Linked DNA regions of Homo sapiens. The protein of the gene in region 3 interacts with the protein of the main gene of each other region in a pairwise test. Each region holds a gene or a part of one and is shown on either strand. Other genes may lie near its edges.

What was found.
Region 1: the proteins of FMR1 (region 3) and SPPL2B interact in binary tests that used the Homo sapiens proteins (3 or more experiments, as listed by UniProt).
Region 2: the proteins of FMR1 (region 3) and SYNGAP1 interact in binary tests that used the Homo sapiens proteins (3 or more experiments, as listed by UniProt).
Region 4: the proteins of FMR1 (region 3) and MME interact in binary tests that used the Homo sapiens proteins (3 or more experiments, as listed by UniProt).

The regions. Positions count from the first base shown.
Region 1 is NC_000019.10:2,351,713-2,356,460, reverse strand, and holds the end of SPPL2B (signal peptide peptidase-like 2B isoform 2 precursor), read right to left. Parts: intron 3,516-4,748; coding exon 3,252-3,515; 3' UTR 1,366-3,251; downstream 1-1,365. UniProt on the Homo sapiens protein: Intramembrane-cleaving aspartic protease (I-CLiP) that cleaves type II membrane signal peptides in the hydrophobic plane of the membrane. Functions in ITM2B and TNF processing.
Region 2 is NC_000006.12:33,435,229-33,444,064, reverse strand, and holds part of SYNGAP1 (ras/Rap GTPase-activating protein SynGAP), read right to left. Parts: coding exon 8,760-8,836; intron 8,551-8,759; coding exon 8,452-8,550; intron 6,703-8,451; exon of another isoform or gene 6,584-6,702; intron 6,398-6,583; coding exon 5,774-6,397; intron 5,735-5,773; exon of another isoform or gene 5,647-5,734; coding exon 5,502-5,646; intron 5,291-5,501; coding exon 5,146-5,290; intron 3,337-5,145; coding exon 3,100-3,336; intron 2,893-3,099; coding exon 2,691-2,892; intron 2,485-2,690; coding exon 2,306-2,484; intron 1,613-2,305; coding exon 1,571-1,612; intron 1,177-1,570; coding exon 105-1,176; intron 1-104. UniProt on the Homo sapiens protein: Major constituent of the PSD essential for postsynaptic signaling. Inhibitory regulator of the Ras-cAMP pathway.
Region 3 is NC_000023.11:147,934,632-147,943,467, reverse strand, and holds part of FMR1 (fragile X messenger ribonucleoprotein 1), read right to left. Parts: intron 6,965-8,836; coding exon 6,855-6,964; intron 6,003-6,854; coding exon 5,868-6,002; intron 5,370-5,867; coding exon 5,307-5,369; intron 2,893-5,306; coding exon 2,806-2,892; intron 338-2,805; coding exon 142-337; intron 1-141.
Region 4 is NC_000003.12:155,075,154-155,084,411, reverse strand, and holds the start of MME (neprilysin), read right to left. Parts: upstream 4,094-9,258; 5' UTR 3,946-4,093; exon of another isoform or gene 370-3,945; intron 255-369; 5' UTR 245-254; coding exon 85-244; intron 1-84. UniProt on the Homo sapiens protein: Thermolysin-like specificity, but is almost confined on acting on polypeptides of up to 30 amino acids. Biologically important in the destruction of opioid peptides such as Met- and Leu-enkephalins by cleavage of a Gly-Phe bond.

The DNA.
Region 1 (4,748 bases), on a different chromosome or scaffold from region 3:
ACAAAAGTCCCGACTGCTTCTAAGCGTCCAATCAGATGGCTGATTTGGTGACATCCTGGCTGTCGTGCCTTGCAGTAGGTACATTACTAACCCTCTTTCCAGAGGACAGGGAGTTGGAGGCAGAGGGACTTGCCCACGACCGCAGGTGGTCACAGGTGGACGTGGTGTGAGCCCAGGGCTCTGTGCGCTGAGTCCTGACTGTAACTTTCAGCCCTGAGGCTCAGGTCCACCGGAGCTAATGACATAGCGACTTTTTCTTTTCCTGGACAGGACAAATCACCACTAGAGGCACACAGGGGAGGTGTTCAGAGCCAGCGCCGAGTGGCCTCCGAGCAGTGAGCTCCCCCGTGGAAAGGCAATTGGGGGTGCTCCTTCTGGAGCGTATCGAGGAACTGCTCAAGTTAAAAAACCGAAACCTAAGTGTGACTTCAAGTATTCTGGAATTCGCTTTCCGTGATTAAGCCGTCCCTTCCCCAGTGGGTTTGAATTCAGGTTTGCTGTGAGTGGTAAGGCCTGAGCCTCCATCTCCCGCTGCGTCCTCACCCTGTTCCACATTAAGGCCAAGGGCGTCACGCTGCCAGGCAGTCGTGGTTTGGCTCAGGGCCTGGAGGAATCCATGTCTCTGATCCCTCACAGCCATGTGGCCTCAGAGGCTTGCTGGTGGCCTTTTTTTTTTTTGGAGACAAGGTCTCGCTCTGTTACCCAGGCTGGAGTGCAGTGGTGCGATCACAGTTCACTGCAGCCTTGACCTCCTGGGCTCAAGTAATTCTCCCACCCCAGCCTCCTGAACAGCTGGGACTACAGGTGTGTGCCACCACACCCAGGTAATTTGTGTAGAAATGGGGTCTTGCTACGTTGCCCAGGCTGGTCTTAAACTCCCAGGCTCAAGCAATCCTCCCACCTCAGCCTCCCAAAGCACTGGGGTTACAGGCGTGAGCCACCATGCCCAGCCTGGGTCTCACTTTCTCTAACGTAGCGGAGAACTTTGTGAGACTAGAACAACACACACAGCAGCCCCTGATGCCTGGCAGATGCTCAGGACTCACTGGCCTCTCGGCCCGCACACAAACCCGCATCCATCACCCACGTGCCCACAGGCCCAGCGCCAGCCAGCAGCAGCTGGAAACCAAACCTTGTCCCAAAGCGGCTAAGACAGGTCTTTGCATTTTTAAAGAGAAAAAAATAATAATAAACTCTTTTGAGACGTGAGGATGCTATACAATTCCAATTTCAGGGTCTGGCGAGAAAATTACTTGAGGGATGGGCGTGGTGGCTCGTGCCTGTAATTGCAGCGCTTTGGGAGGCCGAGACAGGAGGATTGTCTGAGCTCAGCAGTTCGAGATCAGCCTCAGCAACACTGCAAGACCCCATCTCTATTTTAATTTTGTAAAAGGTATTTTGGCCCATTTTACACATGGTCTGTGATGCTTTCCAGCAACAGTGGCAGAGCTGAGAAGCGTGACAGGGACCACATGGCCCACAGAGCCCATGGGAGTGACGCTGGGCACCTCACAGCACTGGCCGGCCCTGCGGTGGCAATTCCAATCCGTCCTCTGCAGGACAGCCAGGCGGCCTGCCAGCTCTCAGTTCTGCTCACCGGGACCTGCACAGAGCAGATGCCCCAAGCCGTGCACTGCGGAGGCAGAGGCCGGGCCATATGTATCAAAAGCTGTGTTTAATGATCAGACGGAATGGCAGCAAGGCCACACGGACAGACGGAGCCAAGGACAGGACCGCCGCCTCTGAACCCCTCCCCACTGGTCAAACGTCCAACACCAAAAAAGAGACGTCCCCACCCCGTCCCCATGTACAAAATGGCTTCAGTGAAGGCGCCATTACTCCCTGGGAAGCTGGTATTTTTTGTAAGGGATCAGGGCTCACCCCTGCCACCCTCTGTCCGGAACAGACCCGTGAGAGCGCAGCGCTCAGCAGTCCCCGTGTGCAGCTGGGGACGACTGACTTGACAGAAACAGATTCTGGACTCGAGTCTGGAGGCCGCACTCAACAGGGCGGGTGGCGGGCGGGAGCTGGGGCCCAGGCACCACAGACAGCCAGGGTGCGGGCTCTGTCTCTGCGGCCACAGGGAGCGCTGCTTCGGAAGTGACCACGTGCAGCGAGGGGAGGATGCCGGGGCCTGGGGCCACGCCTCGGTCAGTTCCCGCACGGACGTCTCTGCCCTGGAGTCAGGAGGACCCCATCAGTGAGTAGACCATGCCAGTGGCAGATGTCCTCGTGGGTTCCAGAAGCTCCTAGCTGCTGGGTCCAGAGGGTTAAGAACCCAGGCACCAATGCCGCTGCCACAGGGAGAACCGAGGCCCAAGCCCCTCTCAGCAGAAAAGCAACACGGGGCCCACACGGGAAGCGAGGTTGGGTGCCGGGAGCTACCAGGACCTCCCACGACCCAGTCCCTCCCTCCCAGGGCTCCAGGGACCCCTGAGGGCCTGACCCAGCCTGCCTGGCGCCCACCCCTGCTTGTCAGAAGGGCAGTCTGAGAGACGTCCACCCCACCAGGTGGCACCAGCAGGACTTCTAGAAGTTGCGACCATTTATTAAAATGGGGAGGAGTGTGCAGGCATGGCCAGGCACCTCTGGCTGAGGGCAGGGCAGGGCCTTAGCCAGGGGAGCAGCTTGTCCACTTACTGCCAGCCTTGTTCACGCCCCAAAACCCCGCCCCACGGGCCTGTCTCAGCCAGCGTCAGGGGCCAGAGGCCGCCCCGGCCACTGGTCCGTGTCCTAGGCTTGGAGGCAGCTTCCAAACCTCCCAGGGGCTCCGATCTGCTCAAGAGGGAAAAGCGATGCCTTCTGGGAGACAGAAAGCTGCTCTTCCACCCGGAGAGCAGGATGCCGTGGGGAGGGAGGTCACCTGAAGGCCGAAGCAGCTGGTGAGCACCAAGTGTGGCCGCGGCCAGAGTCCACCCACGCCTGCTCACTCATGCAGACGACGCTTGAGGGTCTGCAGAGAGGCCGGGCAGGGCCTGCGAGGACGGACCCCGGTGGGGAGGATGGACCCGCAGAGAGCTTGTGGCAGCCGGGCGAGCTGGGAGCAGCAGGCGTGCAGCCGGGGCAGCTGGGCTGGGCGCGGGCACAGACCGCAGGGGTCTCGGCAAGGATGAGCACCATGTTGGGGCGGGTGGGGACGGCACAGGCCTCGGTCCCGGGGGACAGGCGTCTGTCTGTCTGTCTCCAGTGGGCGCCAGGCAGCCCCAACATCTTGGTGTGGCGGGCACGGCAGCGAGCGTCTCACCCCTCCCCTAGGCCGAGGCGCCAGGCTGGGTTACCGGGGACGGCTGGGCCTGGTCCCGGCCCTCGGATTCAGCTGGGCTCCCAGGCTCCCGCATGGGGGCTCCAGCCCCCATCTCCTCGGACGTGCGTGATTTTGGGGACTGCTCAGCAGGCCAGGGGGATGTGGCTGGTTCTTCGCTGGGCGGCTGCGGGGAGAGTGGCGTGGCAGAGTCTTTGGGAGGCTGCGGGCCGTCGGCTGGTGCTGGGGCCCACGGAGATGGAGGTAGGACTTTCTACAGGAGAAGGGAGGCAGAGGTGAGGCGGAGACAGGGACCCAGAGGAGGACCCTGGCAGGGGCCAGGACACCCAGCACCCGCAGGCCACGGGGGCAGGGTCAAAATGAGGCGCCATCCCCAGGGGCTCTGGACCCAAGGAGGGGGCCGGCTCCATAACCTACGGGCACCCAGGACCCTGTCCATCGGCACAGGTGCCGCGGGAGGGCCATCCGAGGCCAGCAGAGGCTGGGAGCTGTGCAAAGCCTCTCCAAAGAAAAGCCTGGACTACCGTCTCTCGCCCCTGGGCCTGGTCCCCGGCTTCTCCTGAACCTTCTGAAATGCCCATCAGAATGGGGAGACCTTTGGGGTGGGGGTGCTGGCCCCAGGAGACTTCTCCCTGGGGCCTGGTCTCAGGCCATGGTCCCATCTGTGGGACCCATGAGCCCAGCTCGGCACTGGAACCACAGCTCGACCCAATGCATCACACCAGTGCGGCAGGGACGGGTGTGGTTTAACCTCCACAAAAACATGACGTAGGACCCCATGCGCGGCCAGCACCGCTGAGAAGCGCGGCATCTCCCCCAGAGGGAGATCAGCTATGGGAGGAGCTGCACCCATGCCCAACAGCCTGAGGATCGCCCTATGGCGCAGGGCTGCTCCCTGGGCGGTCATGGACTCCAAGAGGCGCTGCCCGGAGGGGCGGGGGCAGCTCTCGGGCGCAATGCGCCTGAGTCCCGGGAACCCAGGAAGTCACCTGAGCGGCACACTGGAAGGGGGGGTCCCACCCACTCCTGTTCACAAAAAATCACAAGAGCAGAACCGACGTGGCGTAAGCCCTCCCTGCATCTCACGTTTAACCCTTGCCAACCACCCCCTGCCTTGCCAAGGGGGACAGGGGACAGGGCTTCCACAGCCAGGGCAGGCCTGCTCCCCTCGTCCAGGGCCCTGCGGCCCCACCCCCAGTCAGGCGCCTCGCTCTCGGCAGGAGAGGCGATGGATGCCCGATGCCCACGCAGGTGGGGCACTACTATTTGGGAGAAGCAACTTTAGAAAGGACATGGCACCCCCGAGTCCCAGCCGGCACCCCCGCGTCCCACCCGGCACCCCTGGGCCCCACCCGGCACCCCCGCGTCCCACCCGGCACCCCCGGGCCCCACCTGGCACCCCCGCATCCCACCCGGCACAGGAGCTGCACGCACGTCCTTCCACCGGGGCCTCACGCGCATGACACCCAAAGCAGAAGGTACCAGG
Region 2 (8,836 bases), on a different chromosome or scaffold from region 3:
GAAGATTGTAACTTCAGGCCACAGACTCTGTTTCAACCCCACCCCCCATCTCCTTCTTCCCTCCCTGTTGTGACCCAGCCCGCCTTCCTCCTGCCTTCACCTACCTGCTTGGTGATGGAGGGCTTCAGCCCCCCACCCCCTCCGCCACCGCTGCCCCCGCTGCCCCCAATGCTGCCCTCCTTGCTGAGGCTCTGTTGCCGTGGACGGGCGGGGCCATAACTTGGCTCTGGGGACTGCAATAGATTCCCGCTGGATGGCCGGGGTTTCTGGGCTGCGCTGACTGTCAACTGCTGAGACTTGCCCCTCTGCAATGGAGGCGGCTGGCCCCCGCCACCCCCACCGCTGCCCCCACCGCTCCCACCTCCAGGCCCTGAGGGGGCTGGCCTCTGGGGACCAATGGTGATCTGGGGAGGGGACAGCATGTGCTGCAGGTTGTCCTGGAGTGAAAGCTGCCGACGGGTGAAGTCAGTGCCAGAGGGTCCAAACTCATCACTGTAGCTGTGGCTATGAAGGATGGAGGCAGCAGGGGGCTTGGGGACCCCGGAAGAGAGGTCCTCACTCTTGCTATAGCCATGGAATGGGGCAAAGGTGTCCCCAGGGGGCTCTCCACCTCGGTGGTGGTGATGGTGGTGGTGGTGGTGATGGGAGGAAGGTGGGCCATGGCCACCGCCCCCTCCATGGCCGCCTGGGGGACCTGGCCCATCAGCAGCCATGTGGAAGAGAGGGTTCTGGAAGGAGAGGGGGATTCGCAGTTGCTGGGCAGGGACACCGTCTGTGGTGACACCCATCTGGCTGAGGCGCATGCCAGCCGCCGTGATGGATGAGCCACTCCCCTGGGAGAGGCGTCCGGCAGGCGCAGGCCGTAGCCCCAAGGCTGCTGTCAGCGAGGCCTGGCTTGAGTGCAGCAGGTCCCCTACGGCCGCCAGGTTCGAAACACTGCTGCTGTTGAGGCGGCCACCAGGCCCATCACCCTGTAAGTCCAGCATGGACACACTCTTGTTGACACTCAGCATCTTCTGCTCTGGCTCTGTGATGTCCGAGCTGCTCGTGCAGTATGCTGGTGAGGAACGGGCCAGGGGTGGACGGCTTACATAGAACAGGTCTTTACCACCACCAGGCGGTGGTGGGGGTGGCTTTTCCTTGGTTGGGGAGGGGAGGCGAGCCATGTCCATAGAGCTGTCAGAAGGGAAGGGGGCACACAAGCAGAAGGTAAGGTCAGGGCTCCTAGCAATTGAACCTTGCTGTGGTCTGGCACAGGCCTTGGGGTGAAAAGTGGGACCCAGAGGGAAGGGCTGAGAGCTAGCGGTGGCAGCCCTGAAGAGGGCAGGCAGGGAGGATGGGAGGGGACAGGTGAGTAAAGGGAAAGGACAGGGCCCCTCCGGGAAGGGGGTGAGGCCTAGAGGAGGGGAGATGGGGGCAGCAAGAGAAGGGATGGGGGCAGGGCTGGGCACATATGGAGGAGATGAGGTCCATGGAGGAGGAGAGGAGAGGAGTAGGGCGAAGGCCAGTGGAGTGGGAGAGGGAACAGACAGGAGAGGAGAGGAGGGCGGGGGAGGGGAGAGCCCCTCACCTGTTGAGGCCTCGAGCCATGAAGGACTGAAGGTCGATGGAGCTGGAGAGAGATGGAAAGAGGGGCGAGCACAGACAGAGAAGGAGAGAGATGTGGACAAATGAAAGGAGAGGCGGGAATGGTGGGATGGGTATGGTGTCATGGAGGAAGACACGGGCAGAGGAAAAAGCAGGGCCATCATCAAAATAATGAGCAGCAAATGAAGCACGGGCACCACCTATCAGAATGGAGGCTGGGACTCTGGAGCAGGCTGCAGGCCCTGCTAGGCTTCTGCTGTCACTGCTCTAAGTGCTGGATCATGGGGAGGTCTGTGGGGTTGTGGTCGGGGGCTGGGGGAAGTGCTTATTCACTAGCTATTACTGAGATGTTTGAACATTTTGACACATGGCTGACATGACATGCTGGCTGAACCTCAGCCTGGGGACTAGCATGGGCAGGCAGAGGGACAGCAAATCAGAGCTTGCAGCAGGGATGCTCTAGGCTTACAACTAAGCCGTGAGTTGGTGGAGCCTCAGCCCTATTCCTAGAGCTCCAAATCTCTCACTCCCTCAGGCTGTAAAGGGCTCTCAGCCTACCACTGACTGTACCTGTCTCCTTATCGTCTCCCCTGAGAACTTGGTGCTTTTTCCTCCCTTCTTTCAAGCCCTAGAGAGATGCATGTGGGGCCCAGTGAGGAGTATCTAGAATAGGAGAAGGGCTCCTAGGGCACAGGCCTGGCTGTCCCAGGGTGCTCACCTGTTGAGGTCCCGCATCATGTAGCCCTGCATCTCAGCCGATGGCCCCCGCAGTACCACAGGCTGAGGCCGGGGCCGCTCACTCTGGCGGCTTGGCTGCCTTTGGATGTTGGGGTTCCTCAGAGCTGTGCTGATGTCGTTGAGGAGCCGGGGCAGTGGACCCAGCTTCAGGAGGGCTTCCTGGAAGGGTGAGGCTGTTACCTGGGGGCTCAGTGCCCAGCTCTAAGAGGGCCTCTGAGGGTGCAGGTGGAGGGGGCCTGAGTTGGGATAGTAGTGGTGACACCTCGAGAAACAAGGGGAGAAAAAAAATCTTCAAAGGGTAGTTTCTCAGGCTCCAGGAACCTCTGGAGCCATCTGGGGATAGGGCAAAGAGGGGATCTGCTGACCTTGCTGAGCTGGGGCAGCACCTCCCAGAGTAGGGCATGCAGTGTGGAGAGCTCTCGGCCCAAGTCGATGTAACCCTCAAAGCTACTGCTGTTGGTTAGCGTGTCCAGATTGGAGATCTCATACAAAAACTGCTGCATGGAACCCCATTCCAGCTCCAGAAACTCATTCATGAAGCCCAGAAAGTCCTCCTTTGAGGTAAACCTAGCCAAGAATGCAGAAGATAAAGGTCACATACACACACACACACACACACACACACATACACACACATACACACACACACAAGGTATCATAGCCTCCCCATCTCAGGATCTCTGGGGACTCAGGAGACCCTTCTTGCCGACCCCCAGCCCTGCCACTCCCTGCCCTGCCACTCCCTGCCCTGCCCACTCCTGAAGCTTCCCTCACTTGGAAAAGTTGGCCAGGTTCTGGATGACCTTGGCAATGAGGGTGAGGGTTCGTGAGGTCTGCTCATCTGGGTACTCCTGCATAAGCCCAAAGAGACTGGGCGACATAATCGCTGGGCAGAGGAAGCGCAGGAAGAGTGAGGCGCTGATAAGCCTGTCTGCGATGTCCTCCCGGCCTCGCTCTGCGCAGCGCAGCCGCCACGAAGCAAACACCTCCTTCAGCTCCCTCGGGAACACGCTGGGGGGAAGGGTCGGGGAGACAGAGAGAGAGAGAGAGAAAGAGAGAGACCGGGACTGAGCCCCAGAGACCCTCAGCTTCCAGGGAACATGCTGAGGGGGGTGGTAGGAGGTGAGGGTGTGGAAACAGGGGTGAGAGAGACAGGGAAGGAGGGACCGCAGGAGCAAGATGGGAGGCTGCTTGAAGAAGGGGGCCATGGCAGAGGGAACAGACAGATTAGGGAGAGAGAAATGGAGGGGGAGAGAAGGTGAGGGGAGAGACACGTGGGAGAGAGATGGAGGGGTGTGGGAGAGAGACAAGGAGAGGAGGAGAAGAAAAACAGACACCAGGGAGAGACAGAGATGGGAGAGAGATGGAGGGTCACTTGAGGTACAGGGAGCTCGGACCCCCCAACTCTTCTGGATTCCAGGGAAATGGGGATGGAGGTGCCCCAGGCATGATCCCCAGTCCCTGGAATGGCTCAGAGCTCACTCCCCGCACCTCCCAGTTCCACTTCAATGTCCCACTGACACCTTAAACTCGGCTGGTGTAAAGCAGAGCTCACCATCGCCCCCACACCTCCAACTGGCTCCTCCTCCTGACTTTCCTGGTTGTCAATGAGGCCACCGGTCTCCCAACCACCAGCCTCATGGCCTCTTGAGTCATCCGTGACTCCCCACAGACATGCTCCCTCCTTTCCAATAAGCTGACAATTCCTACTGATCCTTTCCCGAGAGGGTCCTTCCAGTAGCTCCTTCCTAACTTCTGTCACTGTTCTGATTCAGGATCTGACTTTCATGCCTCCGAGCCCCCAGCTGGCTCTATTCCAGTCATCCCCCAACATACATCCCTCTACTCTACTACATACACTCTACTTATGGATTAATTTTTTTTTTTTGAGATGGAGTTTCACTCTTGTTGCCCAGGCTAGAGTGCAATCGTGTGATCTCGGCTCACTACAACCTCCACCTCCCAGATTCAAGTGATTCTCCTGCCTTAGCCTCCCGAATAGCTGGGATTACAGGCATGTGCCACCACATCTGGCTAATTTTGTATTTTTAGTAGAGACAGGGTTTCTCCATGTTGGTCAGCCTGGTCTCAAACTCCTGACCTCAGGTGGTCTGCCCGCCTCAGCCTCCCAAAGTGCTGGTATTACAGGTGTGAGCCACCGTGCCCAGCCTATGGATTAATCTTCTAAATCACAATATTTCTGACACCTTTAATGGCATCCCAAGGCCTACCAATGACCTCAGACTCCTTGAGGCCTTCCAGTTTCTAAAGCTAATCTTCCTGCCCAGACATCTCTCCCGCCACTCCCCATTATGAGGCACATGCTCCACTAAACCTGATGTAATTGCTACTAACCTACTTTAATGTCCCCTGAAAACTCCTGGGCCTTTTCACCATCACACATGTGCCTTTCTCACAGCCTTCTTCTGAAATGTCTTTCTTGCCAACTATGTCCATATATCAGAACCTAAACCAGTCTTCAAAGCCTACCCAAGGGGGCACCTCTTCCCCACTTATCTCAAAGCTCTGCCTTCTCTCTGACCTTATGTCACACAGAGGTTGGGGGGACCCTTACTCAGCACTTACACACCATTATGGCTCTGTGGCTTTTTTTTTTTTTCTTCTAATTTGTCCCCATTCTGGTGGAGGCCCTCTGAGGGCAGGGACCAGGCCTCTTTCACCTGTTTGCTCTATAGCGCCTAGAACAATGCTTTGCCCATAAATGGTGCTCAGTCCTCTTTGAGGATGGACAGATAGATGAACAGATGAACACATAATTCCCCCGACCCTGGCCCCCCAGCCCAGCGTTCCCAGTCTCACCAGTGGGAGTTGACCACCTTGCACAGGGCCAACTCACAGCACATTCGCAGGTTGGCCTGGTGCTCTGCCAAACTGGATGCTGTGCACTTGATAGGGTCTACCTCGCAGTTTTCCTCAGATTCATACAGAGCACGGATGAATTCTCCTGGGGGGTGGGGGCACAAGAGGGTGTGGTCACACTTTCCAAGGGCAGGGAAGGGGGTGGCCAGGGTTGGGGAAATTTCAGAATCAGGTGTTGGAGGCTGGAGTCCTAGGACTCTGGGTTAGGAAGTATCAAGCTGTGGAAGGGTGGACTTGGGGTCTGGGGTGGACATCTGGCAGGTTTGGGAAGAAGAGGGCCTGAGTGTGGGCCATACCAATGGCATCCTTGAGGTATTTCTGACCAATCAGTCTCATATACTCTTCTATGGCTTTAGTGGCAAGCGTGTTCTCGCGGAATATGAGGTGCTCCCGTTCCATGAACCGGTCTACCTCAGACATGGCCATGTCTGAAAGGAAGTCCTGAGGCCCAGGAAAATCCAAGTGTCAGCCTCTGCACAACCCAATCTCGTGAATTTGCCCTGTCCTCACTAACCCCCAAGCAAGTGCCCATTCCCAAGTCACCTTTCCCTGAGGGCACAACACTCACCTTGGCCTTGCCTGTACTCTGCAGGATGTGAACTAGTGCACTGGCAACCTCCTCCTTGCCTTTGACATTCAGGGCGGGCTCCAAGACTGCACACAGCATCCGATAATGGTTGGTGACATACTCTGCAAACTCTTTATATAGCTCCATGGGCAAGATGCTCATTGTCTGGTAACGTGCTTTCAGCCGCACAGCCGGGCAACCTCCTTTGCCCTTGCCCCCTGAGCCACCCCCCGAGCCCCCTCCCCCTCCCGAACCCATGCCCCCAGATCCCCCACTGCCTGTTGGCAGGGTTACAGGGTACCACTGCTCTGTGAAGTGGCGCCCAGCCAGGGTGGCCACTGGCACAGTCACCAGGCCGACATAGCCTGCCTTGTCCTTCTTGCGCTTTTTGTCTGAGTCACGGTACAGATGCAGCCGCAGGGCACGGACAGCCGGCAGGTTGTTAAACTCGAAGTGCTCGCCCCAGAAGACGGTGTCCCCAGAGGCAGAGCGGGGCTTGGAGGTGGTGCGTGCATACAGCATGTCATCCAGGCAGAGCTCACAGTAGTACCGCTTCTTGGGGGGCAGCTCCCGGGCCTCTATGATCCACAGCTTTAGCACATTGTCTACCCGGCGGCTGTTGTCCTGGCATGGTGGGGTGGGCATGATGTTAAAGGGGGAAGGGACAGAGAGACACCAAAAGAGGAGAGACAGTAAGAAAGTGGGATACAGACAGCAATCATAAGGTGAGACGGTGTACTGGGTTGAATAGTATCCCACCAAAACTCATGTCTACCCTGAACCTGTGAATGTGATCTTATTTGGAAACAGGATCCCTGCAAATGTAATCAAACTAAGAAGAGGCCAGCCATGGTATCTCATTCCTGTAATCCCAGCACTTTGGGAGGCCGAGGTGGGTGGATTGCCTGAGGTCAGGAGTTCGAGCCAGCCTGGCCAACATAGTGAAACCCCGTCTCTAATAAAAATACAAAAACAAATTAGCTGGGCATAGTGGCACGTGCCTGTAATCCCAGCTACTCAGGAGGCTGAGGCAGGAGAATCACTTGAACCTGGAAGGCGGAGGTTGCAGTGAGCTGAGCTCATGCCATTGCACTCCAAGCCTGGGAAACAAGAGCGATATTCCATCTCAAAAAAAAGAGGCCATACTGAATTAGAGTGGACCCTTAACCCACCTTATAAAAACTGGTGTCTTTATATGGAGAGGGAGATTTGGAGACACAGAGATACAGGATACAGAGACACACAGAAGGAAGCCAGCTACATGAAGATGGAGGCAGAAATTAGACGGATGCAGTTATAAGCCCAGGAATGCCAAGGACTGCTGGCAACCTCCGGAAGCTAGGAAGAGGCAAGGAAGGATTCCCTGCTACAGCATCAAAGAGAGCGTGGCCCTGCTGATACCTTGCTTTTGGACTTCCAGCCTCCTGAACTGTGAGAGAATAAATTTCTGTTGTTTTACGTGACCCAGTTTGTAGCAGTTTGTTATAGCAGCCCCAGGAAGCTACTGTAGAAGCGTAGACATACACTAGACAACACAAACAGTATTGGAAAGATTTCAAAAGCTGGAATAACAAGCCAAAAATATTAATGTAGAATTTGAAGGGAACTGGAAAGTCCTGCAGAGACTATCAGAAATTGTGAAAAAAGAATTGCATATAGAATGGGTAAAGCTTGGCCAGATGTGGTGGCTCATGCCTGTAATCCTAGCACTTTGGGAGGCTGAGGCAGGCAGACAACCTGAGGTCAGGAGTTTGAGACTAGCCTGGCCAACATGGTGAAACCTCGTCTCTACTAAAAATACAAAAATTAGTCGGGTGTGGTGGTGCATGCCTGTAATCCCAGCTACTGGGGAGGCTGAGGCACAGGAATTGCTTAAACCCAGGAGGCGGAGGTTGCAGTGAGCCAAGATCACGCCACTGCACTCCAGCCTGGGTGACAGAGTGAGACTCTGTCTCAAAAAAAAAAAAAAAAGAATCAGTAAGGGCCTGGGGGGATACAATTGAGCACAAGCTAATGGTAAGGCTCAGGTGATATTGCAGTGTGTTGAAAGGGAACATGGTGTTTGTACTCTGCATAGGTCAGATCATGTCAGCATCTTGGGTTGAGTTCTTTAAGGACATCAAGACACAAGAGTTCCCCCCAGAGGAGTGTGACTAGGACTGTAAGCTTGCTAGAAACTGGGATACAGAGAATAGCTGACAGAACTGGAAGCATGAAGTTTTGGGAAGAACAGACTCATAGAATTTATGTGCCAAAGGGACCTTAGAGATCATTTAATCCAACCCATTGCCACCAGTTCCCTCTGTCTTAGAGAGGAAACCAAGGTACAGAAACTTGGCTAAGTGTATTTGATGTGTCCTGCGGGGTATTAGTGAAGCATTCCTGCCTGCAGGGAAGCTAGACTAAAGAATTTCCAGAGCCCCATCAACTCTGTAAGTCTATGACTTCTATGGCAGGGAAAGAGATCGTAAGGCAGGGTAGCAGTACAGAAAGCGAAAAGAAATGGGGGACTCAGAATAATGGGGGTCTCCCCCTGCTTGTCCAGATACACTGTACCTCAATCCTCTCCTTCCCCAAGCCTCTCCTCCTTTAACTCACTTTCCTCCCTAGGCCCCCAGCTTCCCGTGTTGGTGCAACCTTTGCCCTGCACAGGTTGTGTCCCCTTTATTCCCCAATACCTTGTTGGGCTTTACTGCCCGCTGCAGATTCTCAATCCATTTGTCTCTTTCGGCCGCAGACCGACAGGCAAAGCATTTTGTTCCTGATGAAGTTGTTACCTAGAAAGGAGTGTGGAGTTGAGGGAAAGGGCTACAGAGGGGAGGAGACTCTGCTACCTTCTCTTCCTCCCTGGCCTACCCTTTCCTCCAGTCCCAGAAGTTTCTGTTTCCTTGATGTCCCCACCTGTGCCACTTTCTCTAGACCTCTCTGCCCCCCACCTTCCATCACCCCTGTCCTTTGGCCCTCCCCAGCCCACCAGACCCAGTACCTCAAAACAGAACTCCTGGCCCAGGATGGAGCTGTGCACTGGCTTGATAATGGAATCTTCATCCAAGTTGAGCTCCA
Region 3 (8,836 bases):
CCTGTAACACAATTTAACCCACTGTGAATTGGAAACCATGTAGCGGCAAATTGTTATAATGGGGTTCTAATGAATATTAGAGATTAGCAGCTATAAGTCTAGGAACAGATAAAGTTACTGAGTAAAATGCTTAGTTTGTACCTGAAGTATATCCAGGACCGCGTCTGCCGTGCCCCCTATTTCTGTAAGGTCTACTACCTCGACCCATTCCTTGACCATCATCAGTCACATAGCTTTTTTCCTTATCTGTACGATTTGGTGGTGGTCTAGAACTAGCTCCAATCTGTCGCAACTGCTCATCAATTTGTAATCTCTCCAAACGCAACTGGTCTACTTCCTATTTAAAATATACAAGATAACAGTAAAAATAATTTGACATTTTACTTAATAAAACCTTTCTCCTTTTCATCAGATAAAAATATACTGGAATATTTCAATTTCAGTTCTAAATTTACAGTAAACACTGTTACACAGAATTATCAGGAAATTGAATGATCTCCTTAAAAAGAAAATTACTACAGATAACAGATTATTGATGTCAAGAATTAGAGATATAACAAAAACACTCAGCAGTAAAATTATACTGAATAAAATTTAAAGTTGTCTAATTTGGCACTATTATCCAATTATTCTACTGCTAAGGCACAGATATGCTATTTTGGGGACTTCTTCATGATAGGATATTAAATAAAACATGCTAAAATGTATGAATATAGATAAATGACATTCAAGGTATAACCAGCTAACCTTAAAAATCACACATTGTAAATAATCTTGATTAAAATAGATTTGCCAGTTAATATCTTAATTTACAAAGCATTGAGTTTGGGCCATCTTTTGTTTTAAAAGAACATATACTATGGTTAAGGAACAATGATTTTTTCATCAACTGAAAATGCTGACTATTCCTCATGAGGGGAAAACAAAACTATTTAATAGCTGACCAGACAGCTAGGTCTTACATCATGCCTTGAAAACTTCCTAAAGACTACAACTCTGCTACAACAAGTACGAGAAACAGTATACATTTAGTTGATAGAAATATACACCTGGGGTCCAATGACAGACCCTTACAAAAAGCACTTCCAGTATGTTGGGTTCTGTTAAAACCAGATGAAACCTCATTTCTAACCACTGTCCTTCCAATCCACTCATAAACATCTCATTTACTGGCTACGGGGAATCAGATTCATAACTATAGTAGTAGTAGGCGTCTCAGTGAAGCAGAGGTTATCATAGAGACTGTCTACATGAACAGTCATTGGAGAAGCTCCTGTAAAGCTAAGTTTCTAAAATCTTGGTTGTGGCAGCTTCTGGAAAAGAAAGGTCAGGTAAGGATTTGGTCCGTTTCATCTGTGCTCTGCCATCATTAGCAATTTACATAGTTACACCAGAATCTGTTTTACATAGAATTTGAGCAAAGGAGAGACTGCAGCTGAGTGAGTGACTTCCTCCAAAGGTATAGTAATAGCTCATGGAATAGGAATATCTTGCAAAACAGAAGAGTAGTCCAGGTTATCCCACTGGGGCAAAGCAGTCACCTTTTGGTGAGAGATGCCAGGCCCAAACGAGGGAAGTTCTGGTGATGGAAAGAATGGCAACAGGGCAGCTGCTGATAACCAAAGAAGATATTCTTGAGAATAAATCAAAGGATCTAAGAAAGAACATTAGTCAAAAGAACAAGGGATTTGATACAATGCAATCCTAACTCTCCAGGCCTTCATGATGATTTAAGCTAATTACGAGAGAGACACACACACAGAGAGATTACACATAAACATACTTAAAAAAAAATCAAAGAGGTATCCTACCCATGTAAACCTTGCTGGATGAAACCTTTCCACTTTTAATTAACTGGCCACCATAAGAATGAATGGCATGCCCAGTATTACACTTTTTCTTCCTTTCATTCTTATTTACACACAAGCAGAAATCATGTACTTTTTATTTCTTTCAAGAAATCAGCAAAAAAATTCTTAATGCCATAAATAGAGTTGAAATGCTTTTTAAAAACATTTAATACCAGCTACATTATAATTTTGATATGTATGGATACAAATAAAACATTATGAAAATGAAGTAGATCAGTTTCCATTTCATTAAAGTATAGAACATTTTGGCCAAAAGGAATTTCAAGAAGCATCTAGTGTAGGGAAGTGACTTGCCTAAAGTCACACAGCTAGTTCATTTGCTGAAGTCTTATAAGTAAATTGCTGCATTGCCCATCCAGTGCTTGCTCCACTACACCTTGTAGCCTCCTCGTTCCTATCTTCCAGTTTGAAATTTTAAGGAGGCATAACCGCATCACACTAACTAAACTGAACATTTATGAGAAGACACAAATAGTTTGTATTTTGAATAACAGTAAAGAGAAAAATAGGGTAAACATTTAAACAAAGAACTTCATGAAATGCTTAGATTTCCTTGATAAATGACATAAAAGGAACAATAAAGGCAAGAGTTATAGACACAGATTTTTGTCTGGAAAAAACCAAAATGCTAGAAAGGATCAAATGGATTAACAGGCTATGTACAGGATTGCCTAAACTGAGTGTAAGGGTTTAAGAGAAGAATAAAGGGAAGTATAAAATTTTATTGAAAACTGGTATATTGGTACTTAAATTTATAAAGACTTCCATTTTTAAAAAAATTATAAGCCAAACAACGTATTTTCTCTATTACCTTTGACAAGTCATACAGTGTTTTGCACAGGCTAGAATGAGTCCTAACTGCTGAAAGATCTACTATAAAGTTTGTATATTTTAGTACAAAAGGATTAGAAGTTAAAGTTCTTTCTGTTCTCACCTTTAAATAGTTCAGGTGATAATCCAAAAGAACAGTGGCATTAGCGATGCTGTCCTTTGTTCCCACAAAAACAAATGGTACCATACCCTGAAAAAGAAATTGCAACAATGATCCTATAAAAGTAATGATAGATTAATCTGAAAAATGCAAATAACGACTAATTCCCTAGCACAGGATCTGGTGAACAGCAGGTATACAAATGTTTGCTGTAAATATAAATCAATATATGAAAACAAAAGTAGTTGATATACTACTTTACACATCTACTGTGAATACGAATAGATCAATAGCAACCTTTTAAACGTATCAGATTATTATAAAGACTAGTATTCAGTATCAGCAAAATCACAAAATGTATAATTCAAAATTATACAAGCTTTACCATGAGATGTATAAACAAAATGAGTAGTATAAGATGCTCTAATTCATTTATGAAAGGCTTTATCCTGATCAAAATTTTTTCTTTTTTTTTTTTCTTTTTTGTTTTTTTTTTTTTTTTTTTGAGACGGAGTCTCGCTCTGTCGCCCAGGCTGGAGTGCAGTGGCGGGATCTCGGCTCACTGCAAGCTCCACCTCCCGGGTTCACGCCATTCTCCTGCCTCAGCCTCCCAAGTAGCTGGGACTACAGGCACCCGCCACTACGCCCGGCTAATGTTTTGTTTTTTTAGTAGAGACAGGGTTTCACTGTTTTAGCTGGGATGGTCTCGATCTCCTGACCTCGTGATCCGCCCGCCTCCGCCTCTTTTTTTTTTTTTTTTTTTGAGACAGGGTCTTTTTATTCTGTTATCCAGGCTGGAGTGCAGTGGCATGATAATGGCTCGCTGTAGCCTCGACCTCCCCAGGCCCTAGGTGTTCCTCCCACCTCAGCCTCCTGGATAGCTGGGACAACACGTGCATGCCATCATACCCAGCTAAATTTTTGTACTTTCTGTAGAGACGGGGTTTCGCCACATTGCCCAGGCTGGTCTCGAATTCCTGGGCTCAGGCGATCTGCCTGCCTTGGCCTCCCAAAGTGTCGGGACTACAGGCATGAGCCATCGCGCCTGGCCGATCAAATTCTTAAAAAAAAAATCAAAATGAAATACCAAGGGTACAAAAGTAAAAAGTAAATCATTTCTGCTAACCAAGTAAATAGAGTACACACAAAATACAAACAAAAACATCAGGATAAAAATGCACTGAATAATCTGTGAGACAAAAAAATAGGTACATTGACAAGCATTAAGTTTTATCAAGCCCATACACATTTCAATAATGTACTCTGAAAATTTTAAAAGGCTGAATCACAAGGAAAGTTTGAACTTCTCTCTATGGACACTACTTAACATAAGAACAGATTTTTAAAAGGCATATGCTAAATGTCTGTACTCCTAGCCCATATATATATATATTAAGAGGGAAAAAAAAAACAACTACTTCTTGTCACAAGTTATAGGGAAACCTAGAAACAATTGTGCAAATTAATAACTGGCAATTCATTTCTGCATGTTGGGTTTTTCTCCAACAAGCTTTATTTGTTACAAAAGCCTTTAACTGTATTATTTCCCAAAATACCATGTGATGGAATGAATGCTACACCCTTCCCTCTGGGTCAAATATCACCAAAATAGCTTTAAAATCCTATGTAACAGATTTAGTTAGATTGACTTCGGAGCAAATTATTTACGAATATCTTTTCTTGCAACATGTCTAAACTGCTGGAGTACCCCAAGGGCCACTCTAATTTAAGCACTTCACGAGTAGACCTGAATAGTAAATTAAAATGAAGAAAGGCAAGAATGGAATGATGGCCTTTAGTACGGACCCCAGAAAAAAGTTACTCTGTGTTCTGGAATAATGGGCTGCCCGGCAATGAGACATATCCAATCCACTTGCCGTTATAGTCCTCTTTGTAAAATGGCACCTTTGCTTTTAATCCATGAGTCCACAACATTTTTTTCCATAAACAGTTCTCACCAGCTCTCCCTGCCCTCAAAGAACTTACAATGTGGTTGAGGAGATCAACAAATAAACATCTATGTTTAAGTGCTATGCTAGGGGTGAGCACATTGCAAAACAGAAGGGGAAGGCTCTTGAACCAGTCAAGGGGGTGGGGATCTTCGGCAAGTACACAAGGAAAGCTTTGTAAGGAATAAGGTCAAAATGAGGTGACATGTGGAGGAGAAAAAGCATTCCAGGCAGAGTAAACCTGTACATATGTCTAGAAGCAAAATAAGCACGAGAATGTTCAGAGAACTCAAAGTACTTCAGTATGGCTTAAGGTTCTCTAGAGTGCAAGGGAGAAGATAATTTAAAGATGATAACTAGACAAGTAATTAGGAAAAGCCTTACAAGCGGCATGAAGGTGTTTAAGCTTTAACTCCAGGGCAATGGATCCACATACCCACAAACACTCCTCCCTCCAGTCCCTAATCCTGAGGATCATTTGTAATCTTTGTTAACAAGGGGAATAAACATTAAAATATAAACTGAAAGTGTATTTCTCAAGGAATGTTTTCCTACCTGCCAAGCCTTGAGTTCAGGTTTCTGGGATTCCCCTGCTACAACTGATGAAGCCACTAACACCTAAAGCAGTATAAGGAATGCAAGGGATGTCATTAACTATAACAAACGATACACAGAAGCCTGAACGCAGGACTTTCACTGCAGGACTTTTAAACCCATTTCTAAACAGATTAGTTCAAACAGAGAAAATTAGTTTCTAAAATATGGTTCAAGTAGTAACTAATGCAACTAACAGAAGGTGTATTTTGAGCTACGATACCTGCAAAATTTAAAGAGAGAAGGCATGGAAAAAAGAGAGTCCACTGTCAAAAGAAAAATGTGACCACTAAATGCAACCCCATTATTTTGTGTTTATGGCATAAGAGTTGTTACTGTGAATAAATTGAAAAGTATGTATCACACTAATTTGTAGTATCTCATAAGCTGGCAATTACATTTGGAAAAAAAATAGAACATAAGTAGCCTACAAGTCTAACCAGAGAAAACATCCAAAATACCAATTGTGACATCTGAGACAAATTACTTGTATTGTAATTCAAAGTGACAAGTAATTCTTACCCTCTGGACTTTTGTACTGTTAGGTTGAGAAAAATGGGTGCTGTTTTCCTTTATATCTAAATGTTTTTTTTCTTCTGGGGCATTAGGTCCAACCCTTGAATTATTGGAAGGAAGGGAATTTGGTGGCATAATTTCCTTGGTAAAAAACAGAAAACACAAAAGAGAAAAAAAGGACCAATTTAAGACTTTATTTAGCTCTATTAGTGTTATCAATCATCATATTTTTAAAAAATGTAAGTTATTATAAACAGTTTTGGTTTATAAAATTACCGAATACAAATTGTACGCAGAAAAAAAAGATTTAACTTTAGCTAAAAGAATCTTTCAAAAAGAAAGCTAGACAATATGTGAAAATTACGGCTCTTTGATGAGACAGTATCTTAAGAGTACTATTGCACAGAAAGGTGCATCCTCACCTCTCTACCCCATGCAAATACTTTAAAAGCTGCTACAAAAAGCATATATTTATGAAGATAAAAGGGTTACAGAATTTAAAGGTAAGGAGGATGGGGAAGAGATATTAAGCACAGAAATAAATTTAAAGCACACAGAATAAACACACATACTACACAATCCCCACACTAAAAAAGTGAAAAGATGAAAGCCAGAAAACCTGTGTTCCAATTTTGCTTTTGTCAGCAACATTAACATTTACAAAGTGCTTTACGAAGCATTTACATATATATTATTTTATTAAATTGCCATTAACACTCGACCCAGTGATGTATGTCTCATATTTAAAAATTTATAACTACCCATTTTAAAGATCAGGAAAAAAGAATTCAATAAAGTGACTAATCCAAACTCACTGCATTAGAGGACAGAGAAGGGCCATTATCTACAATTATAACATTAATTACAGCAGGCATGCTTGATAATCAGAATATTTGCATTCACTTTATGCACATATTAGAGGTCCTCAACATATCACATAAAAAACTTTTACTTTTATTATATGTGCCACAAAATATTCGCACTGTAACATACCTCTTCTTGTGGAACATTTTTCTCATTTTCAGCCTCAATCCTCACCCTCACAACTCCTGACTTGTCCACAATCTCCTGAATCAGCTTTCCATTTTTTCCTATTACTTTGCCTAAGAAATAAATAAATCAAGTTTGGTTTTAAAAACACATACCTCAAAGCAGTAAGCACAGCCCTACTGTAAACTATTACATTCATATAGATAGATATTTTTATGTGTATGTGTATGTATTGAATTGTAAGATTTCAAAACCAAAGTAGAGACTCTTTTCAACAAGATGGTTAATCTGGTTTTCTGTTTAATTAGGACATCATTGTTTAAACTCCTTTGGTCAGGTACCAGAGTTGATTAATACTTGCAAACTGATAGGGTAATTTTGGATTTTTAAGGCAGTTCAAAGATAACCTCTTATTTTTGCACAAAAGGGTACGCTTTAAACTTGCTGGTACTGTGGTATGTATCATTCTTTCTGCAAAGTTCTATAAGAATTAAGAAAAAAGTAGAGAGAATGGGAAATATATTCACTTATTCAACACTTTCAATTCTTGTCTGTACCTGATTTAAATCTGCTTCTTTGTCCATGGTAAATATTTTCAGAATTCTGTATGGAAGGCACATTTATAAAAGATAATCTAAGTCTGAAAGTGGCTTAAGCAGCTATACATACATCCAAAAGGAATACAAATTCTTCAAGGTCAATGTGTTAACAGAGTATCACTCCTGTGCATTACTTACAAACTTTAGCAATGTATTAAAAAGTGAAGGGATTAGTCACAGAGTAAAAGATTAAGAAAACCCACTTTAAGATAACTCAAAACCACAATGAAAAAGCTTTAAACCAATTTAAGTATTTTTCAGTAACATCTATTAAAACTTGGGATTTCAAGTACCAGTAAAAAATAGGTACTTGATCATTTCCTTATTTATTTTACAATCATATACATTACTGGAAAATGACTGCTTTCATTTGCATCATGACACGAGTGGTAAAGCAAGACATTACAAACTTAAGAATTACTAATTCTGGAAATGTACATGTGAACTACATCTGATTCTGAGGGCTCACCCAAGGTACCTAAGTACCCTTACATTGGCCACATCCACCATGTGCTTGCCCTCACCATCTCATCTTCCATTTTTTCCTTTTCGCCTTTAAAGGCAAAGCTCAAGGCAAAGTTGGGGGAAAAGATGGAAGCAAAAATTTGCTTTGAGCCAATGCTAGATAAGAACTCAGTGAAAAGCCTTCTCACAAAAAATTCTTGTGGCTCTTGTAATCAGAGCATAGCTTTGACATTCTTGCTGTGTGTGGCTGCCTCATTCACCCCTAGAAACTCTTTGACTGGTCATAGAACAGATCTGACACCATTAAATCAGGATTCTTGGTCTAGGTCCTTCTGTCAATTATTTCTGTTCTTCTATAACGAAAAGGGGAAAGGTGAGGTGAGAGAAGCTACTTGGAGTCTTCACACAGTTTGATTTTAAACTGCAACACTTACATTTTCATGAATTAATGTTGACTTTAATAAAGATCTAAGTGAGTTAACAAAATGAAAAATGAGATTTGGGGATGTTTTTATTAAGATAATATCTTAATTATCCTAAGTACTGTGTGTTAACTATAGCTGACTGAATAGTCATACCAATTCATTCTTAGTGAGTGAAGAATCCAATTTTAATGAAAAGATAAATTAGTGCACATACCAAAGAGAGTTTGTGAAAAATAGAGATCACAAATAACGTTGGTTGACTCAAACAAAACACATGCAAAACTGATTATGACACCTCTCTAAAGATCTGCCTTGCAGAATCTTACACAAAAATGCTTTCTGAAAAGTTCCAACGTTCCCAGTGTTGCAGTGGACCATCTCTAAAACAGAATTATCTCATTTTACTAACTAGAAACAACAAAACAAAAACAAGGCTGATTTACTTTTAGCAGTCTTTCTGGTTATTTCTGAGATCCTCTTCTTTCCAGGTAACCAC
Region 4 (9,258 bases), on a different chromosome or scaffold from region 3:
ATTCGTTGGATAGATGGTAAAAGCATGGAGGAAGATTTCCTTCTCTTTTGCACTTATGGATGCACAGGTGTGGGAGTAACTCACCATCGTAGGTTGCATAGAGTGCGATCATTGTCACAGCTATGATGGTGAGGAGCAGGACAAGGACCGAGAGGCTGATCTCCAGTGGAGTCCATCGCTGTTTCTTCTTTGGCTTTGGAGTGTTGATATCAGTTATATCCATCTGACTTTCTGACTTGCCCATCACCTAAAATCTGCAAAAAATGAAAATACTAATAATGAAAAACAAATAAATAAAAAAGAAAATGTCCAAATGCTTAATGTGGCTGGATAAAAGTAAAAGGCTCAGTTATTTTAAAATAGAAATACATTTTTGCTGTTGAGAAGTCAAAATTTTGTTGCTGAATGCAAAGTATATAGAGCCAAATGAATTTGACAGGTCTCAGTCACAACCTTTTGTTTTTTGTTGCTGTTGTTTTGTTTTGTTTTGCTTTGGTATATCACTGAAAATCTCAGCAAAATTAGACAGTAAGACTTGGTTAAATACTCAAGTAGGATTAATTCAGCAGTTTATAAGCAAATAATTGCTGTACCATCATTAAGAAAGTTTTAAACTCACCCTTTTGAACTCTGGACTAACATCAATGGTTAATTTTATATCTTGCTCCAGTGGCTTCCTTTATAAGCTCAAAAACCAGTGACTAATACCTTGAGGTTTTGACTAAGCAATAATTTGAAATATTAATATAGATAAACAGCAAAACGAATGAACACATGAAGTAGTTTATTTTAGTCATAAAAACAACCTTTATTTTTACAGTTCAAAATTACTACTACTACTGATACCAGTATCTATTAACTGGTTAGACAACATTCTGAAAATGGTCACTCACTGTACCAAAAGATACCTGAATATCCAACCTAACCACGCCCAATCCCATTTAAGAGGGGAGTAAGGGGGATAAGTAAACAAAATAGTACAAAAAGTTACCAAGTTGATACTTGTAGTCCTGTATAAAGCAGGGTATGCAAAAACATACCTGTATTCCTAAAATCTTTCACCTCAACTGGAGATGTGTTAAAAACTTTAAACCAAAAAGTGGACACTGCCACAGAATAGAATAAAGAATTAGGAAACTGGGGCACAGAGAAGTCAGGCAACGTGTTCAAGACTACACAACTCGTCAATATTCTTTGTAAAGAACACATTTGGTCACTGTTCAAAATAAAGCTGTATCATCATGCAGTAAAAGCGTACTGTAGAAATTTAGGGGGAAAATTAAGGGGATATAAGCCTAAATATTAAATTTCATCAGGGGCCTAGTGACACTTTATCAGCCAGTCTCCAAGGATTAGAACACACAATTTCCATTTTTCTGCATGACTGTATAAAAGAACATCTTAAACTAGCAGATTAGCTGTTTATAGCTCAATACAAATTGCTCTTAGAATTTGGTCCCAGGATGAAGTGGCGGCTCAGAAATGCTCTTATAGTTAAAGATCTTTGTTGAACACACACAATTCTCTAAGGGTGTGTTTTGTGGAAACTGAGGCATAGGAGAAAGAAGAAACATATTCTACATTTGAAGTATGGTCTGGGAGACCCAGCAGAAAACTAGAAATTAACCTTCCCAGTGAATTATTAATAAGCGAACCACAGCTAGACCTTAAAGTTCTGGATACAAAGTCTTAAACATGCTGTCCCCTTGATTACATGAGGCTATAAGCAAGGACAGACTATCAAATAAAAATATTTTATTACACAATGAAAACCGTGTCTGCTAAATAAAAGTGGAATGTAATGTACCTGAATGTTAAAATGTCTTACTTAATGGTTATGTAAGGCATGCTGGCTTAGTCTCACCACCCCTGGGGTTATGATATGGAATTGCATTGATTGTAGTCCTATTTTAATAGTGTATTGGTTGGGCAAAGGAAAGAGGGGAACAAATTTAATAATACTCTGGACACTTTACAGAGAGGTAAACAATAATAATTCTCCCAGTCTCCCCATGTTTCATGACTGTCCTAAAGAACACCTGAATGTTAAGCACATTTGCTAAAGTATTTCCCTTTCCTGAATATTGTTCCCCCCGCATATGTCAGAAGACAATGTAGAGAAATGTTTTACTGGTATAAAAGGACTTTTTTTTTTCTTAGTTCTTCCTTAGAAATGACAGTCAGTGTCCCTGTAAAGTAAAGCGAAGGGGTGAACCAGGGCAGCCTCAGGGTTAAATTACAGGTGCTCTGTGGAAACTCCATGCCTTGTGGTGTAGTAAAGCTAGTGGATAAGCATTTCTTTCTCCCTGTAAGTTACTTTCCCTTGGCTTCTCCTCCTTACCCTTGAGACTGGGTACTGAAGCAGCTGGGCTCTTAATGGGTCAGCACCCAAGTTTGCAGAAACAGTTACAGAGAAATGAAGACAGTGACAGAAGCTGCATCAAAACAATATAATCTTTGAATCACCTGCAAAGTCTTCCTCCATCTCCCCCTCTTGTAAATGCCCTGTAAATTCTTAAAGGAAGTCTTTTGCTCTTAGTAGCCTTTTTTCAAAAGCATTGAGCAAAAGCAGAAATGATGCAAGTTTAATCTCCTAATTAACTTTGTCGTTCATTTCCAGTTAATTCTGGAAGGTTCACAATTTTTCTTTAAGACATCAGGGGACAGTATCTGGAATCTCACTGTGGAACATATGACTAAACCCCAAATACCTGAATATCCAACTTAACCACACCCAATCCCATAGAGAAGAGTAAGGGGGACAAGTAAACAAAAGAATACAAAAAAAAAAAAAATACCAAGTTGAGGCTTATAGTCCCATATAAAGCAGGGTACGCAAAAACATACCTGTATTCTTAAAATATTTCACTTCAACTGAAGATGTGTTAAATAAAAAGTTTAAACGGAAAAGTGGACACTGCCACAGACGAGAATAGAGAATTAGGAGGTCTAAGATAACAAGAACCTGCAAACTTCAGCTCGACAATATTACCAACAGAATAAATTACTATTTTAAGTGTAAGCTTAATTTCAAAGCAATGTAAAGCAGCAATTCTTATACCAGTTGAGCATAAGCATTACTATATCAGACAGTCAAAGCAGGAAACCTGGATAACTGATTTGTTAAAAAGGAAATCTCATTGACTTACAGACTTAGACTTAGCTAAGCAGTTTTCATCTTCACTGCACATTATAACATTAACTTATATCTGCAGGTTCCTGAAGCTGTGCTATGCAATTACAGTTTGTTCTATGGAAACTGAGGCACAGGAAGAAGGAGAAACAGTTTCCATATTTAAACTGTGTCTGCAGAAGCTGAGGACAGAGGTACTCAGGATAAATCATCTTCTTGTTTCCCAGACATTAATTAGGTGTTTCCCAGCCTGAAATACGGAGTTCTGGACACGAAGTGCCAACCATATTACTCCCCTGGTTAGTGCTGCTCTACAACCAAAGACACAGGGTTAAGTCCAAGAAATTACCAGACAATTTTTTAAAGTGCTAGAACCCACAAAAATGGCAGGGGATGAAGCTACACGCCTTCATACAGTCGATTTGCCGACAAGCACTTTCCAAATGCTGACGCTGCAAGTCAGGTACTAGTTTTCAGTTTAATAAAATTGCCATTTGAATCATATATGGGGGAGGAATCGACTTGATCGAGAAGCTAAAGAGGGATATTTGGTTGCAATTACCCTTATTTTGAAACCAGACAAATAGACTGAAACCAGTTAAGAGGTCTTAAACTTTCATCTACAAAAGGACACACCAGCCCCGCACCGACCAACCCTTGTGAGATTTAAGCATTAATTATATAATAGGAAATCAGGTTAAAAGCAAGATGAAGAGGTGGGATAATGAAAAGATCTTCCGGTTAAGAAAAGTAAAAATAGAAAAGTGAGTTACAAATGAGAAAATCCGACAGAAACCAAAATGAAAACAAACCTTGCTTTTTAAAAAGAAGAAAAAAAAATCAGTGTCTGTACAGCAGAATGGCAAATTCCCAGCCCCCAAATCAGCCCCGGTGCAATCTGGTAGCGCGGATCTCGGTAACAAAACATAACTCCCCAAGGCAGAGGCCGCAGGGAACTATGGAAATGAACCTGAAGAGCCAACCTGACGTGACTTCCAGAGCCCTCCTCCAGGTCACCCTCTGGGCCCCTCTCCCTCCCCTCACTCTTCAGGTCCCAGTAGCGGCTCCTTCCCAGGGCACGCCTCCTCCACGGCCGCAGGGTCCTGGGCGCTCGGATCGCGCTGGACCTTAGCTGCGGACCCTGCTCAGCGCACCTCCCGGCAGCCGCTCCCCTCGGCTGGCTCTGCCCTCCCCGTGCCCGTCCCACGGGCTCCCAGCGCCCTGGGCGCTCGCGCCCTTTGGACCTTTCTCCCTCAGCTCGCTCTCCTGGGACTCACCAGTGGGATTCGGGAGAAGTTGGAGGCTGCTGAGCCGACACATCCCGACCAATGAGCGCACGGGGCCGGGTGGCAGTGGCGGGCTGAGAGCCCAGCCAAGCGCCTCTCAGTCCGTGCATCCGCCCAAGGCGCGCGGGCTCCAGGCTGAGGCCGGACTTGGGGGAGGTTCCGGACCCGCCTCCGCCCGGGCCGTGGGGCGACGAGGCACCTGGGCATCCCTCCGACCCGCACCCACAGAGACTCACCGTGACCCCTCAGCAGATCCCGCGCCAGGAGTTGGGCGGCTGCTCCAGCCTGCTCTCGGTCAAGCTTCGCCACTTGCACATCTCCGCGCCCCGCGCGTCTCGGCGCTCTCACGGCCCACCCCCCCCACCCCCTACCCCGCCTCGCCGCTGCAGGACCAGAGAGAGGAGCAGTTCCCTGGGTGACCTGAAGGTTTCCGCTAGGTCTCCCAAATCCAGTCACTTCATGTGAGGGGGCCGGGGAGACGGGGGGCGGGCGGTGGCAATGAAAATGTCCCATCCTCCCCACCCCCCATCTCACCATTCCCAAAAGGGCTTTGCTAAACATTTTTAGAATTGCTTAGCTTCGGGGCTTTCAAGAAAACAATACACGGGCTCTTCGGGATTCTCTAGTCCTGAGGGGGCTCCATCTCTCCCCTGTGGACCGGAGACTATAATGCTTGCCTCTTCTCACGCTCTTCTTTCGCTCTCTTTCCCGCTCCCTTTCCTCCCTGAATCCAAGCTTCCTTCCTTCTTCATTTAAATGTCCTCTCTCCCTCCCTCCTTCGTTTTCTTTTTTCTTACTCTCCCTCCCCGTTTCCTTCTTTCCTTCCTTGCTCCTGCTTTCTCCACCCCGCTTCCCTCTTTCTTCCCTTTCTTTTCCTTGGTCGAAGTACTCTCATGTCAAGATCTGAACTGAAACTCTCCGCTCCCACCTCCTGACTTCAGGGAATCTTAAAACGTGTGTACATCGGAGGTTGAGGGTGGGGAGTGAGAAAGAGAAAAATAAACTAAAGTGTGTCTGCTCTACCTACTGAAATCAGCCGTAATGCGCCTGGACCCTCACAGTTTAATGCAAGCAAGCAGCGTACCCCTTTCACTCAAGACACAGCGATTCCTCCTCAAAGGGGTAAATACAAACAAGGAAATAAATACTTTAGGCACAAAGGCAGTTTCTTTGTAAAAGCTACCTTTAGCAGCTATAATTGCCAAGGAGCTCAGAGGAACTAAACTTCCTTTTTTTTTTGCTTCCAGTGTACAAGTACCTTTAATACTGATCCCTTTCCTCTTTTGAATCACAGGTAATTACACACACACACACACACACACACACACACACATACACACACATATTCACACTCCACTGCGGAATTCATACTGAAATAAAACTGGGTTTGCAATTATCTGTTTTTAATATCAAAATGATTTGCTGCTTGAGAAGAGTCCCCTTGTGCTAAAAAATTTTCCATCTTTTTCATAGCAGAGAAAGCTGAAAAGCAAGGAGAAAAGGTAGTTCATCCTAATAAGTGGAATACAATGGAGAGACATTTCCCCAAAAAGCTAACCAATCTTTAAATAATTCGATTAATATAGAGGAAAAATGGAGTGTGTAGACCTAACAAGTGCTATTGACGTCTATTTACGCTTTCTCTGTGCATCTTACAGACACTATTTAGTCCTCACAACAATCCCGAAATATTGGTGTTTTCACTCCCACAAATAAGCATGCGGGGCTTGACTAGCGCCCTGGAAAGCATCTCAACTGGAATTTTTTTTTCCTACAGAGTCTCGTGCTGTCGCCCAGGCTGGAGTGCAGTGGTGTGATCTCTGCCTCCTGGGTTCAAGCGATTCTCCTGCCTCAGCCTCCTGAGCAACTGGAAATACAGGCACGCACCACCACACCGAGCTAATTTTGCTTGCGTGTGTGTGTGTGTGTGTGTGTGTGTGTGTGTGTACTTTTACTTTCGGGGTTTCTCCATATTGGCCAGGCTGGTCTCAAACTCCTGGCCTCAAGTGATCTACACACCTCGGTCTCCCAAAGTGCTGGAATTACAGGTGTTAGCAATCATGCCTGGCGGTGAGGACTCTTTTAAAGGAAAAAAAAGGATTTACTTAAAATGTATGACAAAAGAAAAAAAAAATGCCTACTTAGAGTTAATTTTAGACTCTGACTTTCAGCTGATAGTCGACAGTATGGATTGGTAACTGGTTTCCCAGAACAAATATTTTTTTCTTTTTCTCTTTTCTTTCTGTTTTTTGTTGTTGTTGCTGTTGTTCGTTTTTTTTTGTTTAGATGAGGGTCTGACTGTGTTGCCCAGGCTGGTCTCTAACTCTGGGCTCAAGCAATCCTTCAGCCTCAGCCTCTTAAGTAGCTTGGACTACCCACATCTCCCTTACAATATCTTGATTTCATTAAAGTTGATTAGAAACTTAGGGTTTTTGTTGTTGTTGTTTGTTTGTTTGTTTTTAAATCAAGAATGCTAAATCTCCTCCCAGAAGTTTGTGCAAGTTTGAGATAATTTTTTTAAGGGATCTTAAAGAGTCCCCAACTATTTACAGTAAGTAAATTTAGACAACTGAGGCTTACTGAGGTGGTCCAAGATCACTCAGTTTGGCCACTTATAGGAATGGAGGAGAAAGTAGCCCTCCTGGTGGCCATACATAAGTTATTAAGAATGGAATGCATTGGTTCTAGCAGTTTGCAGAATGGATCCTTAAAAACCACTGTGTGTGACACAAATGCTTGATGAATTTTTTTAAGTCCTTTAAAAATGCTATAGTGCATTTTTATATGCACCATTGAGCCAGCAGGCAAGTAAAAGAAAATCTTAGAAGCCAAAAACAAAGAGAGCTGTCAGAGGCATTTGGACCAGAGCAACTCCATCTTGAATAGGGGCCGGGTAAAATAAGGCTGAGACCTGCTGGGCTGAATTCCCAGGAGGTGAGACCTTCTTAGTCATACGATGATGTAGGAGGTCGGTTGGCACAAGGTATAGGTCAGAAAGACTGTGCTGATGAAACAGGATACTGTAAAGAAGCCAGCCAAAACCTACCAAAACCAAGATGGCCATGAAAGTGACCGCTGGTGGTCCTCACTGCTCATTATATGTAAATTTTAATGTATTAGCATGCTAAAAGACACTACCACCAGTGCTATGACAGTTTACAAATGCTATAGCAACATCCAGAAGTTAACCTATATAGTTTAAAAAGGGGAGGGACCCTCAGTTCCAGGAAATCTCTGCCCCTTTCCCTGAAAACTCATGAATAATCTACCCCTTGTTTGGCATATAATGAAGAAATAACTGTAAGTTTACTCAGTCAAGCCGCCTATGCTGCTGCTGTGCCTATAGAGTAGCCATTCTTTATTCCTTTACTTTCCTAATAAACTTGATTTCACTTTATGGATTCATTCTGAATTCTTTCTTGCAAGAGGTCCAAGAACCCTCTTTTGGGGTCTGGATCAAGATGTCTTTCTTGTAATACCGACAAAAAAATCAAGAAGGATATGTGAGTGCTGAAAACAGTAGCTGTCCTGGTGGTATCTATCCATTTCAAGAGGCCTCACTGGACTTAAGCGACCTAGAGCTTTCACTTTAACAGGACTTGCAAGTGCCAAGGGACTTCATACAAAGTGTAGTCCAGGGCAAAGTGAAAATGTGGGCTAACAAAAAATGAAACTCAGCCCCAACTCCGACTCCTCACCCCTACTCTTCCACAAGAAACATAGATATACTTGCTTTTTTCAGTCCTGACTCAGGCTGGTAAACTTACAACAAAAACTTTCTGTAAGAATTCATGATTTGGCCAGACTTCAAATGGATGTAGGAATAGAATTTATACTAATTGTGTAGCCTGAGTATTTCCAAGTTAAAGATCTATGGTAAAGTAGTCCAAGCTAGACTGTTCAAAATAAAAATTGAAAAACTTCCCACCACTGACTGTAACCAAAGGAACTTCTTGAGAATGAATTTAGGAAGCAAAATAATAGTTTATGGAAGATCTGATATGTGAGAAAGAATGATAAGCAAAGAATATAGTAACAACATAAATAAATCTAAGCAAACATTAACAAAAATAAAAGAATGGTGATAAAAAAGATCAACTAAAAAACCAGACAACGGGGTGTGTAAGCTGGGAGAGTTTAATTAGAATTAAAGCACTCTGAAGTCTTTACTCAATCAGGCCTGGTGGTGTGCACCTGTAGTCCCAGCTACTCAGGAGGCTGAGGCAGGAAAATCACTTGAGCCCAAGTTTGAGACCAGCCTGAGCAACATAGTGAGACCCTGGCTAAATAAATAAAATGAAGTCCTTACTTATGTTGTTGGAAAGAAGGATAATGATATTGATTAATTATATACTTTAGACTTTATTAGGTTAATTATGTATGTAAAAAGTACTAATACAACCACAAAAAAGATAAAAATAGAGTGCATAAGGTCAAGTTTTGCAGAAAGAAAAAACAAAATTAAACATAAGTCAATCTAAAGGAGGACAGAAAAATAAAAAGTATTAGAGAAGAACATATAGGAAGTATAACATAAAATGCTAGAAATAAATCAAAATATATTAATTGCAATAAATATAATTGGACCAAATTCTCCAGTTAGAAGACACAGATTGGCATAAAACAAACAAATAAACAAAATTCAGCTGTCTTCTGTTTAAAAGAGACACACTTAAAACATAAGGCTATAGCATAGTTGAAAGTAAAATAGTTCAAAAAATATATCAAACAAATATAAGTGAAGGATTGCTGGTATAGTAAAGTTGTAATAAAACTAAAATTTTACCAAAAAAAGAGATTAATCAATTCAGCAGGCTGATAACATTGATAAAATTCTAA